2 separate regions of the Homo sapiens genome follow, and region 1 is linked to region 2. The links come from fine-mapping of genetic effects on gene expression. A gene starts in region 2. The other region holds a variant in brackets. All regions are shown on one strand. Distances are between the middles of the regions.

What was found. PIP is the estimated chance that this variant, and not a neighbour inherited with it, causes the effect.
Region 1: its variant is the best candidate, but not a certain one, in a credible set for the expression of RRM2B in blood mononuclear cells (TOPMed, PIP 0.68).

What each region holds. Positions count from the first base shown.
Region 1 is chr8:102,201,808-102,207,190 of GRCh38, forward strand. RRM2B (ribonucleotide reductase regulatory TP53 inducible subunit M2B) reads right to left here. Exons shown (of 9, transcript NM_015713.5): 9 at 2,695-5,383. Among named protein-coding and RNA genes, the nearest start is that of RRM2B, 34 kb to the right of the region's middle. The variant G/A (reference allele first, on the strand shown) is at 2,651.
Region 2 is chr8:102,236,338-102,241,720 of GRCh38, forward strand. It overlaps RRM2B (ribonucleotide reductase regulatory TP53 inducible subunit M2B), which reads right to left and starts at 2,624. Exons shown (of 9, transcript NM_015713.5): 1 at 2,490-2,624. The coding sequence starts at 2,537. UBR5-DT (UBR5 divergent transcript) reads left to right here and starts at 3,114. Exons shown (of 3, transcript NR_125415.1): 1 at 3,114-3,363. RefSeq lists enhancers at 1-1,144, 2,448-2,547 and a silencer at 2,618-3,047.

The DNA.
Region 1 (5,383 bases), 35 kb before region 2:
CCTCCCCTTCCAGAGCACTTGTTCACCTACTCCCCCCACCACAGTTCTTAGACTTAATCAAGACCCCCAAGTTCTCTCACTCATCTACTTTCTCCCAATCCATGAACCTCTTCTCTTCACGTCTCTCTATCCAGCTAAGATTCCGGAGTCCATCATATTACTAGTAGTAGCATTCCTATCAATAGCCTTAACTCTGTTCCTCACCTGCATTTTACCATACATACATACATTTTACCATACATAGAAAAATCCAGGAAAAAACCCATTGTGAATGCAACAATCCAGTTTTTACATATTTGTACCCTAGCAGCAAATGCTGCTAGAGAAAAACCATACACTAAGGCAAACTGAATCTACTAGGCTCTCCATCCTCCACAATTGCTTCTTCACACCTCCCCTCGCTGCCCCTACCCCCACTTCCCAAGGAGGTGACCTTATCATCTCTTTCACAGAGAAATTAAGTCAACAAACAACAAGCTTACAATGTCTCTTCACTAAACTACAGACATACCCCATCACCATCCATCCACCTTCCCTAGCTTCCCTCCTGCTACAATAGAGGAAGTGTCTGAGGTCAAGCCCTCCACCTGTGCTTTCCATCATCCCACCTTCTCAGGAGGCTTACATTACCTTCTCACACCCCTCTTCTTACCTTTGCCAAGATTGTCTTGATGAATTCTTATCTCAAGATTTTTTCTCAGTTGGGCACGGTGGCTCACGCCTGTTATCCCAGCACTTTAGGAGGCCGAGTTGGGCGGATCATGAGGTCAAGAGATAGAGACCATCCTGACCAACATGGTGAAACCCCATCTGTACTAAAAATACAAAAATTCACTGGGCATGGTGGCGAACGCCTGTAGTCCCAGCTACTCGGGAGGCTGAGGCAGGAGAATTGCTTGAATCCGGGAGGTGGAGGTTGCAGTGAGCCGAGATCGCGCCACTGCACTCCAGCCTGGCAACGGAGTGAGACTCTGTCTCAAAAAAAAAAAAGAATTTTTCTCAATCCCAACTCTTATTTTGGGGGTTTACAATCAGCCTGCTTTTTCAGCCTGCAAGGTACTTAATTTTTTGAGTCTGATTTCCTTTTGGTTTTTCTTACAAACTCACTAATTCTTTCCTGAGCTCATCTCTTTCTTGTAATTCTTTGAGGAAAGTACCAATAATTTCCAACACTCTTTGTGACACATCTTCTATATGTCGTCCAGATCCATTTTCCACCCTACGCCTGGAGGCTGATCTGTAAGGACGGCATCAAGCTCCCTTGCCCTCTTGCTCCTAGTTGGTTTTGGCTAATGGGGAGCCACTGAAGGAGATAGGAGGCAAGAGGAACAAGGTGAGAGTATTTATTTTCTGGCTCCTTCTCAGCGAAGTTGCCTTAGGCTTGCTGTCTCGCTCTAAATGAAGATCACATCTTATTCATAATTCTCTCCCTCTGGTTTAACTGCTCCCTCAAGCTTAAGGGAGGAGTTAAGCAGGGGTGGTAACAGCCCTGTAATTAATTGGTAGCCCCATGTACTACACTATTTCCTATGGTTTCCTGTCCATAACTTTCTAAATTGTCCTGTTGCCAAACTTCTTTTGAATTACCCTAACTTGAATTGCCAACTGTTTCTTGCTGAGCCCGATACTCACATAAATACCGATTATTTCCATGTACTTTTTTTTTCTTCCAGGGATCAATTTCTGTTTTAACTAGAATCCCTTTGGTTGAAAATCAAGAAACCTAATTTGACCTACCTTAAGCCGAAAGTGGCATTTGTTACCTTGAAAATGAAACTATGCAAAGAATACAGTTGGACCTCAGAGGAGTTTAGAACTAGGACTCTCTCTAGCTTGTCTTTAGAATAAAAGTGCTTCTCTTTCTTCAGTTTCAATTAGGAAAACCCTAGGTAAGGACCTGGCCCAGTCTGGATCACATGCTTAAGCCTGCGCCCAGACACATTCAGTGCATACTAGCGTATTGGCAGCCCTGGGAGAACCGCATGGTTGGGAATGAGAGCAGCAGTCCCCAGAATTAAATGGCTGTTAGTCCCAGATATTTTCAATCACTCCGATTGTAATGACTCCACAGCAGAAATCACACATAGGAATTCATATCTACTGTTAACTTCTTAGGTTCTAGATTTGGGGCTCTTATATCGTCAAATTTTTCTACTAACTCTGAGAATATCTCTATGTGTGCAAAGTCCACAGAGTAAAATATATGGTCACCTCTTTGGGAAACGGGGGTAGAGGTAGAGAGAGGAGGTGTGAAAAAGCAATTGTGCACAGTGGAGGTCAAGTTTACCAGGAAATTGTAGTAGGATTACCAGATAGTGCTGAGATAGGGTAATCATGAATACGTAGAGAATCCAATTGCCTTGTTGTATGACTTCTTCTCTAGCAGCATTTGGCTGCTGGGGTGCAAATACTGGAAAAACTAAGTTGTTTCATTCAAAACAGACTTGGGGATTTTTCTAAATTTTTCTATGTATGGTAAAAAGCAGATAAGGGACAGAGTTGAGGGTACTGGTATGAGTGCTACTGCTAGTAATATGATGTTTGTGGAATCTCAGCTGGAAACAAAGACATGAAGAGAGGCTTATGGATTGGGAGAAAGATAGGTGAGAGAACTGGGAGTCTCATTTAATGTAAAAACTATGGTTGGGGC[G/A]ATAGTTGAACAAACAAGTATGTATTTATCTGCAGACACAAATAGTAAGTATATACATTCCTTTATTAGGGTAGCCCTTGCACTTATAAAGAAACCTTCCTCAAAAAGGAAATGTACAAAATGATGAAGATACCATAGTTTATTTCAACATACTAAGCCAAAAAAATAAGAAAACAACTAATTTATTTGAAAAAAAAACAAATTCTGTACATGCAGGCTTGGCTTGATTGACCATAATGTATTTCAGCAAAAAAAATTTAGATACACCACACATAATAAAGCTTTCTATGTACACAGTAAATAGTAAATAACTTTGCTAAATGGCCAGACATTTGAAAAAATGAAAACACAGTTGTAAAACAAAGTATGTAAGAATATTGTGACCTTATTTAACTGTACAAAAAGCAATCATTCTCTCCAGCCTTCCATCTTCACTTACATTTTTTTAAACAAGATTAAGCCCCAAATTGAAGGGATTAAATCCTTTCTTCCTAATGCCTCGGGAATATGAGATTCTCTTTCAAATCTTTAACTTTTTACAAAGGAGCAGAGCACTTAAAGGGAAATGGTGGGAAACAAAGAGATTTCAATTCTGTGCCATTCATCCAGATTCTGCTGGGGAAGATTTCCCAAGTCCACTACCAATTCACTCAACTTGGTTTAAAAACATAATACCTGATTGTAGGATTAATTTGGCTTTTATTTAGCCCATCTGCAGCTTTATCATTAAAAATCAGCTCCTGACATTAGCCCTTAGTTCAGTATCTACAAATGAAATTTGGGAATTCTATGACAGTGATGTTAGCATATTTAAATGTAAAATGCAAAATGATTAATTTTTAAATATGCAAACTGCTACATTTTCTCAATAATCAATTCATGCACAAATAAAAAATGGCAATAGAAAAAGCAGAAAAATATGGATGTTTCTAAATGAGACAATGAGACAATTATAAAAATTTCATGTATTAATATCAAGACAAGGCTGGGGCCAGCTTAGTTGTAAGAAAAACTATTATTGTATATAATTGGACAGCAAAACCCAGTCCTGTCTAAAAGCAATGGATCAAACTGTCTTCTCAAGTCCTTCCTGGCCATATTTCTATGTGATACAATGAAACATTTTTAATAAATGCAATCTATCATAGAACTGCAAGTTTTTATATTCCTAATGAACTTAACTTTATTATAGCAATGATTTAAATACATGTACTGTAAAAAAGAGAAAACAGTTGTAAACACACTCTTAATTTTTTTCTTTATCTGCAAGATAATATTTTTAAAAGATTACACAACTTCTTGATTCTTTAAGAACTAAGAACCAAAGTATTGAACATAATAAATAAATGTGCAACCTGGAGGCCTGGAAAAAGAGATAGAATACCAAATAACAAACCAGTGCATTAAAAATCCAGTATGTCAGTATTAAGACTTCTTCATCCAAATCCAGTTAGGTTTATTGCTATTATAAATAAGCTTCACATTAAGGCATCTGTCATTACCTATGAAAAAGATTTGGATTCAAAACAAAGGAATATACACTGTACAATTTTTTTTCTTTCATTCTGATGTCATTACAGATATTATCAGTTTTAAATGTTAAGTTTTTGTATGGCAATATATAAATATCTTTAAACATATTACCTGAATACAGTTCAAATGTCTCTCTATATTTTGATACTTTAATATATATATTTAAAGTATATTCAATTAATGAGGAAATAGACAAAAGCAAATCAACATAGATGGTAAAGGACTAAATCTGAGACATTACAACCTCTAAAAAAAAATACTGTACAGACAGTGACGATGAGCAGATCTTGGCCAAGTCATTTAACTTCCCTGAGCCTCATTCTTTCCATCTGTAATATTTCAATAACAGTTGCTCTGTCAAGCTGTTTTGAGATCAAATGAGATGATGTAAAAACACTTGGCAAACTGAAGCAATGCAAAAATTAATGGTATTATCATAGGCCAAAAGATCTCAAGTTTCTGACAGTGTATCTAACAAATAAAGTTATGGCCTGCTCCTTTTGCATTCACTTGAGAACTCCCAGTTTTGATTAGATTGTTATGGAAAGAATGGAGCCAAAATTTATGCAAAGAGAAAATCTCTAAGTTTTAGCATCCAGAATTGTATAAAGTACAGTTTGTTGGGAATGGGAAACAACTGCTTGAAGGGGTATACAGAATACCAAATAATAATGTATTAAAAATTCAGTATTTCAGTATTAAGACTTCTTCATCCAAAGACAGGTCTAACTCTAACTAGGCTCAGGCTACCTCTTGATACTTACTAAAAATAAATAGGGGCAGACTTCTCAAAAACCTTGGTTCCCGGCCTTTCATCAGACTCTTCTAGAGAAACCTCCTTTTCCCTCACCATTGGCTATCATGTTGCATAGTCACATTAAAAGAACTATCTCTTATAACAGCTCAAGAGTTTTAAAACCATAAAGAAACACAGCCTAAGTCAATTGCTGGTACACTATTCAGGCTGGTATAAATTTGAAATGATTCAATAATCCCTACCATGTTCTCCCTTTCTCAGTCCATAAGCCCTTCCTCTATGTATAAATGGTTCTCGGCCAGCTTTTTCCAATCTTTGTTCTGAGGAACACTAGCTGGGTGAGATGTTAACAGGTAAAAAACATCTGTGTTAAGTATGTTGGGAATATGCAGGGCGAGATAAATTTATGTACCACTGAACTGCTCAGTCTTTGATGTACTGAC
Region 2 (5,383 bases):
AGAGTTTCTGAATGGGAATTAACATGAATAGAGGTGGCATTAGGAAGACTAATCAGAAAACCACGTATAGGATTAATTGATAAAAAACTAGATTTTGCAAGCAACTAAGGAACCAATTTCAAAGATGGAAATGAGGACTTGAATTAAGATGTGGCAGTTAGCATGAAAAAAGCAGCTTCAACAAGACTTCACCAGCCTGAGGTGTTGGCCAGGCTTTTTGGTAGGAATTGAGACTCTTTTGGGAGTTTTTTGGGGGACACAGGGTCAGTGACACTGAGGCACTGGTCTAATGAAGGATTAACTTGGCAATGGTAATTAGGATTGAATGGCAGGTAAGATAGGAGATAGAGAAACAACAAAATTATTATAGCCGCACAGGTGTAAAGTGATGAGAATTTGAAATAAAGTTTAGCAGTAGGCATTCCTTAGTGACATTCTGCTGTTTTTTCCAGAATGGTACTTCCAGTTTCCGACTGACTCAATTTCTGGTCACCCAGTTGGAAGACATGCCTGGGCATGTCAGGACAACAATTTAGGTCAAGATTTCCCAGCAAGCACTTACGATGCCCCAATCTAGGCTGGCATCATACCAGGCTCTTACCTCCTATCCAGCCCCAATTCCACCACTTCCGTTTCTTTGCCTTTATGTCTCTTCTACTTCTGTAAAATAGCTGTATGTTGTCATAGTCATACACTACTTGTAAGTATTATTTTCACTTCTATTCCCACAAAGTCTGACGGAACCAATGGGATACCCGCCCAGGTGCAAGAACTTGGTTTTAAATTTAGCTCCTCTACTGAGTCCTGGGCATGCCATTTAATGTTTTCTGGCCTAAACTTTACCTTGACAATAGACTATGAATTAGATTAGCAATAGTTAACTCTGAGAAATTGACAATAACTATGGACCCCTTTCTCAGAAGATTCACATCTGCACATACAAAATCTACATATCACTTCAGGAGATTTATAAAGCCCCTTCTAGTCTATCTATGGACCCTTTAAGACAGTGGGGGGTTTTTTGTTTTTGTTTTAATATGTGTACCAGGATCACCTGAAGTACTTGTTAAAAATGCAGATCTCAAGAGATTTTGATTCACTATGTTTGGGGTGTTGGTCCAGCAATTTACATTTTTTACAAAATACTCCAAGTGACTCTGATGCAGGTCTCCTATTATGCACTCTGGCATCTAGAAAAACAAAGTGCTTCAGGCAACCCAGCATCTCAAGTTAAAAACTTTTGGACCACTAAAATTCATTCTGAATCTAAAATTCTGTCTGTCCTTGCGGGTCTGTATCATTGAGATAGGAGTAATAAATAAAATGTAATATCCAGGTGTTAAGCCTGAATCACTGCTGGTGCCATTAGCATAAACAGCAGTCTGAATTTTCCCCTTTGAGTAGGGAAGTTGGTACTAAACGCATTTGTTTCAAAACAGGAAGAAAAAGCTTGAGGGATATTTACAGTTAGTTACTAAATGCTTACAAAAATCAAGTTAAATAAAATAAAATCTCAAACCTGGAATCTACAACTTTCTAAAGAAATGTAGGGCCAAGCATGAATCTCTTGGGGTGGAAACGTTTGTTTCCCCCAAATCTTCACAGTATTAAATCAAAGATACCACAGCAACAGGTTCCAGTAGTACAAAAAGCATTTCTCTTGTCCACAAAGGGCTTAGAAGTATTTGCAAAATGACAGTGTTTGAAAATTATACAGCAACAGTTTAAACTACCATACAATCCTACAGTCTAACAAATTCTGGTTTATTTATTTTAGGTACTTTTATCAGCATAAACAACTTGGATGAACAACTTGGGCTTATTAAGCACCTACAATTTTCGTGGCACTTTGCATAAAGCATTTTACTTAATTCTCTCTGAAGTATCACTTCCATTGTATAAAGGAAGAAAGTGACACCCCGAAGATTCAGTTAGTTAAGGAGCCGGGCCTGAGCAAAACTGGCCTCCTACCCTGATTTTTTCACTGGGAGGAGGTCATGAGGATTTCGTGTCCCCTTCTACCTGTCATCTTCACCCCAGCCACCTGTGTCAATTTCCACACGCGTTCTCCAACTCCTTGTCACCATCCCAAATGGTATGCACCTCTCCAGCAGAGCCGCCACAGTCCTCTTTCCTTGCCTCGGTTTCCCTGGCCAGGGCTCCAAAACAGGGAAGGAGGGTGGGAGAGCGTGAGGCGGATAAACGCAGGGGTAAGTCTCACCCCGGCCTGAGGCCTCCAAGCGTCGTCCTTGGCTGGCCCCGGGGCAGAGCAGCGAGCGGGACGCAAACCCAAAGTCAGCTCCTTCCTCCGCCCTCCCCGGGGACGGCCTCCCCGGCGCTCGCAACGACGAAGCCAGGCTGCGGCGAGGGCGGGCGGACAGGCCTGTCCTGACCGCGGCGAATAACATTTCCTACAGCGGTCCTGCAACTTGCAATCTAACGGGCTGGCGTGACTGCGGTGAGGGGGAAGACGCAACAGCAACATTTACCTCATCCTGATCCAGCCCGGCCGCTTCCGGCCTTTCCGGGTCGCCCATCGCGCAGACTCCGCCGAAGCTACGGGCGCTGAGGGAACTGAGCTCCTCAGGCCACCTCCAACTACGACAGCACCCAGGTGGTCCGCTGGTCCGCTGGGTCCGCCCCGCCCCCAGCTCTAGGGACTCGGCCGGCCCCGCCCCGCCGCGCCGGTCCTGCTTTCTCGCCTGTCCATTGAGTGACTCTCCCTGCGCCGGCCCGGCCCCGCCTCCCCCGCCTCGGGGCTCCGCCTAACTTCGGCCAGCCCCGCCTCCCCGCCTGCGGCCTAAGGGTTTCTCCCCGCCTCGGCCGACCCGCCTCCCCTACTGCGGCCTAAGGGATCCTCCCCGCCTCGGCCTGCCCTGCCTCCCAGCCTGTGGCCTAAGGGATTATCCCTGTCTCGGCAAGCCCCGCCTGCCTTGGGGCACCGCCTACCTCTGCCAGCCACGCCTCCCCTGCCTCGGGGCTCCGCCTACCCCGGCCAGCCCCATTTCCCCGCCTGCGGCCTAAGGAAATCTCCCTGCTTCCGCTGGCCCCGCCTTACTCTGTTGCACCGCCCAGTCGCCCGGCTTTCCACTGAGGGACGCCCCCTGCTCTGGACTGCTTAGCCTACTCCAGCTGGCCCCACCTCACCTCATCGGCCCCGCCTCCTCCGCTCGCCCACTCCGGGCGCCCACTCCTGAGGAGCTATCCCAGAGTCCGCGCGGCCTCGCCTTCCCGGCCCGCTCACCACCCCGCCTCGTCCCACCTCGCCTCGCCCTCCCCGGGCTCTAGCCACTTGGTGCGGCAGGTGTCCTGCAGGCCGGCTCGAGATTCCCGAGCTCGCCCTCGTGGTGTTCCAGGAACACGGTACTTTGCGCTAGCCTGGCCTGTCCTGAGAGACTGCGGGAGGCGAAGAGAACGCGCTGTTGCTGTGGGAAGCGCCGGGGACGGGACAGCTACACCGCCAAACACTTCGCTAGGGAAAGGGCTGGCTGGTTTCGTGCGTAAACAACCGAAAAGGGGAAGTGTCTGGGGGAAAGTGTGTGTGTGTGTGTGTGAATGCGGGTGAGTGAGGGGGAGAGGGACACGTTACTAAAGTCAGGCAAATATTTTGAAAAAAATATATTTTGAAAAAAATAGTTTGGTCTAACAAAAATAAAATGGAAGAGAGATTTGTTTAAGTAGTTTGAAGCTGAAAGATTGACGGGATCTTGCCATGACCTGAACAGCATGCACCTGTTTTGTGGCTGGCTGAAGGATGGTAAATAGGATCAAGATCTCACTTTAAGCGTTGAAAATGCTGAAAGCCCTTTCTCAAACCTGCCATAGCGTAGGGGTAGACAGTCTTTCTTAAAGCAACTACTAGGGGTCAAATGCTGAGTGAAATTTTTTTCATCTGTGAACTTTAAATAATAGCCACATACATTCTGCTAGGCAACTGAGTCTCAATTTACTATAGGCCACGTGGCAAATAATCAGATTCAATTAAAGTCATCAAACAATAATTGTGTGTCGGGCATCACGTTTAGGTATTCAAGATACAAACATGAATGAGTTTGGTGAAAAAGTCATATCATCATGGGCATGAATTCTAGTTCCCTCACTTATTAGCTATGCTACCTTGGGTCAATTAACCTCTCTGAGACTCAGCTTTCTCATCTACAGGATAAGAATAATAATCCCTTCCTCATAAGGTTGTTGTGTGAATTTAATAATATATTACTTGTAAAACACTTATTGGGGTGGGAAATTACCTTGATGCAATGGTAGCTTCCACGTACGAGTCAGGCCATCCCAGAGGGTCATGGAACTCAGATGGCTGAGTTCAAAAGGCTCAGATCAAATTGAGATGCCTGAGTCACACAGTTTATTAAATCAATTTATTTTCATTTTAAATAAGTTTATTCAAACAAGACATTTGACTTGAAAGGAAAACTAGGATTTTTTTTTAAGAGTAATGTGTCATTACTGAAAGATTGCCTTACATGTAATAGCCACGTACAAAGAGTTATAAAATTGTCTTGGCTAGGCCGGCACGGTGGCTCACGCCTGTAATCCCAGCACTTTGGGAGGCCAAGGCGGGTGGATCACCTGAGGCCAGGAGTTCGAGACCAGCCTAACCAACATGGCAAAACCCGTCTCTACTAAAAATACAAAAATTAGCCGGGCGTGTTGGCGCATGCCTATAATTCTAGCTACTTGAGAGGCTGAGGCAGGAGAATAGCTTGAATCCTGGAGGCAGAGGTTACAGTGAGCTGAGATTGTGCCATTGCACTCCTGCCTTGATGACAAGAGCAAAACTCAGTCTCAAAAAAAAAAAAAGAATTGTCCTTGGCTTTACAATCATAAACAAAATACATTACAATTCTTCAACTGAAGAAGATATGCAAAAACTGTTATGGTGTTTTGTTTTGTGTGTGGGGTTTTTTTGGTTAAAACAGAGCAAAATAACGAACTGGAATATAAAGATAAGACCTGAATGAGCATGGCATTAATGGAGAAGGGAGTCTTCACAAAACCATATTTCTCCGCCCATCCTATCTTCATTTGATGCGGATCAAAAGATAACATTGGGGCCAGGCGCAGTGGCTCACGCCTGTAATCCCAGCACTTTGGGAGGCCAAGGCGGGTGGGTCACCTGAGGTCGGGAGTTCGAGACCAGCCTGACCAACATGGAGAAACCCCATCTCTACTAAAAAAATACAAAATTAGCCGGGCACGGTGGCGCATGCCTGTAATCCCAGCTACTCGGAAGGCTGAGGCAGGAGAATCACTTGAACCCGGGAGACGGAGGTTGTGGTGAGCCAAGATCGCGCCACTGCACTCCAGCCTGGGCAACAAGAGCAACACCCCGTCTCAAAAAAAAAAAAAAAAAATTGACCATTTG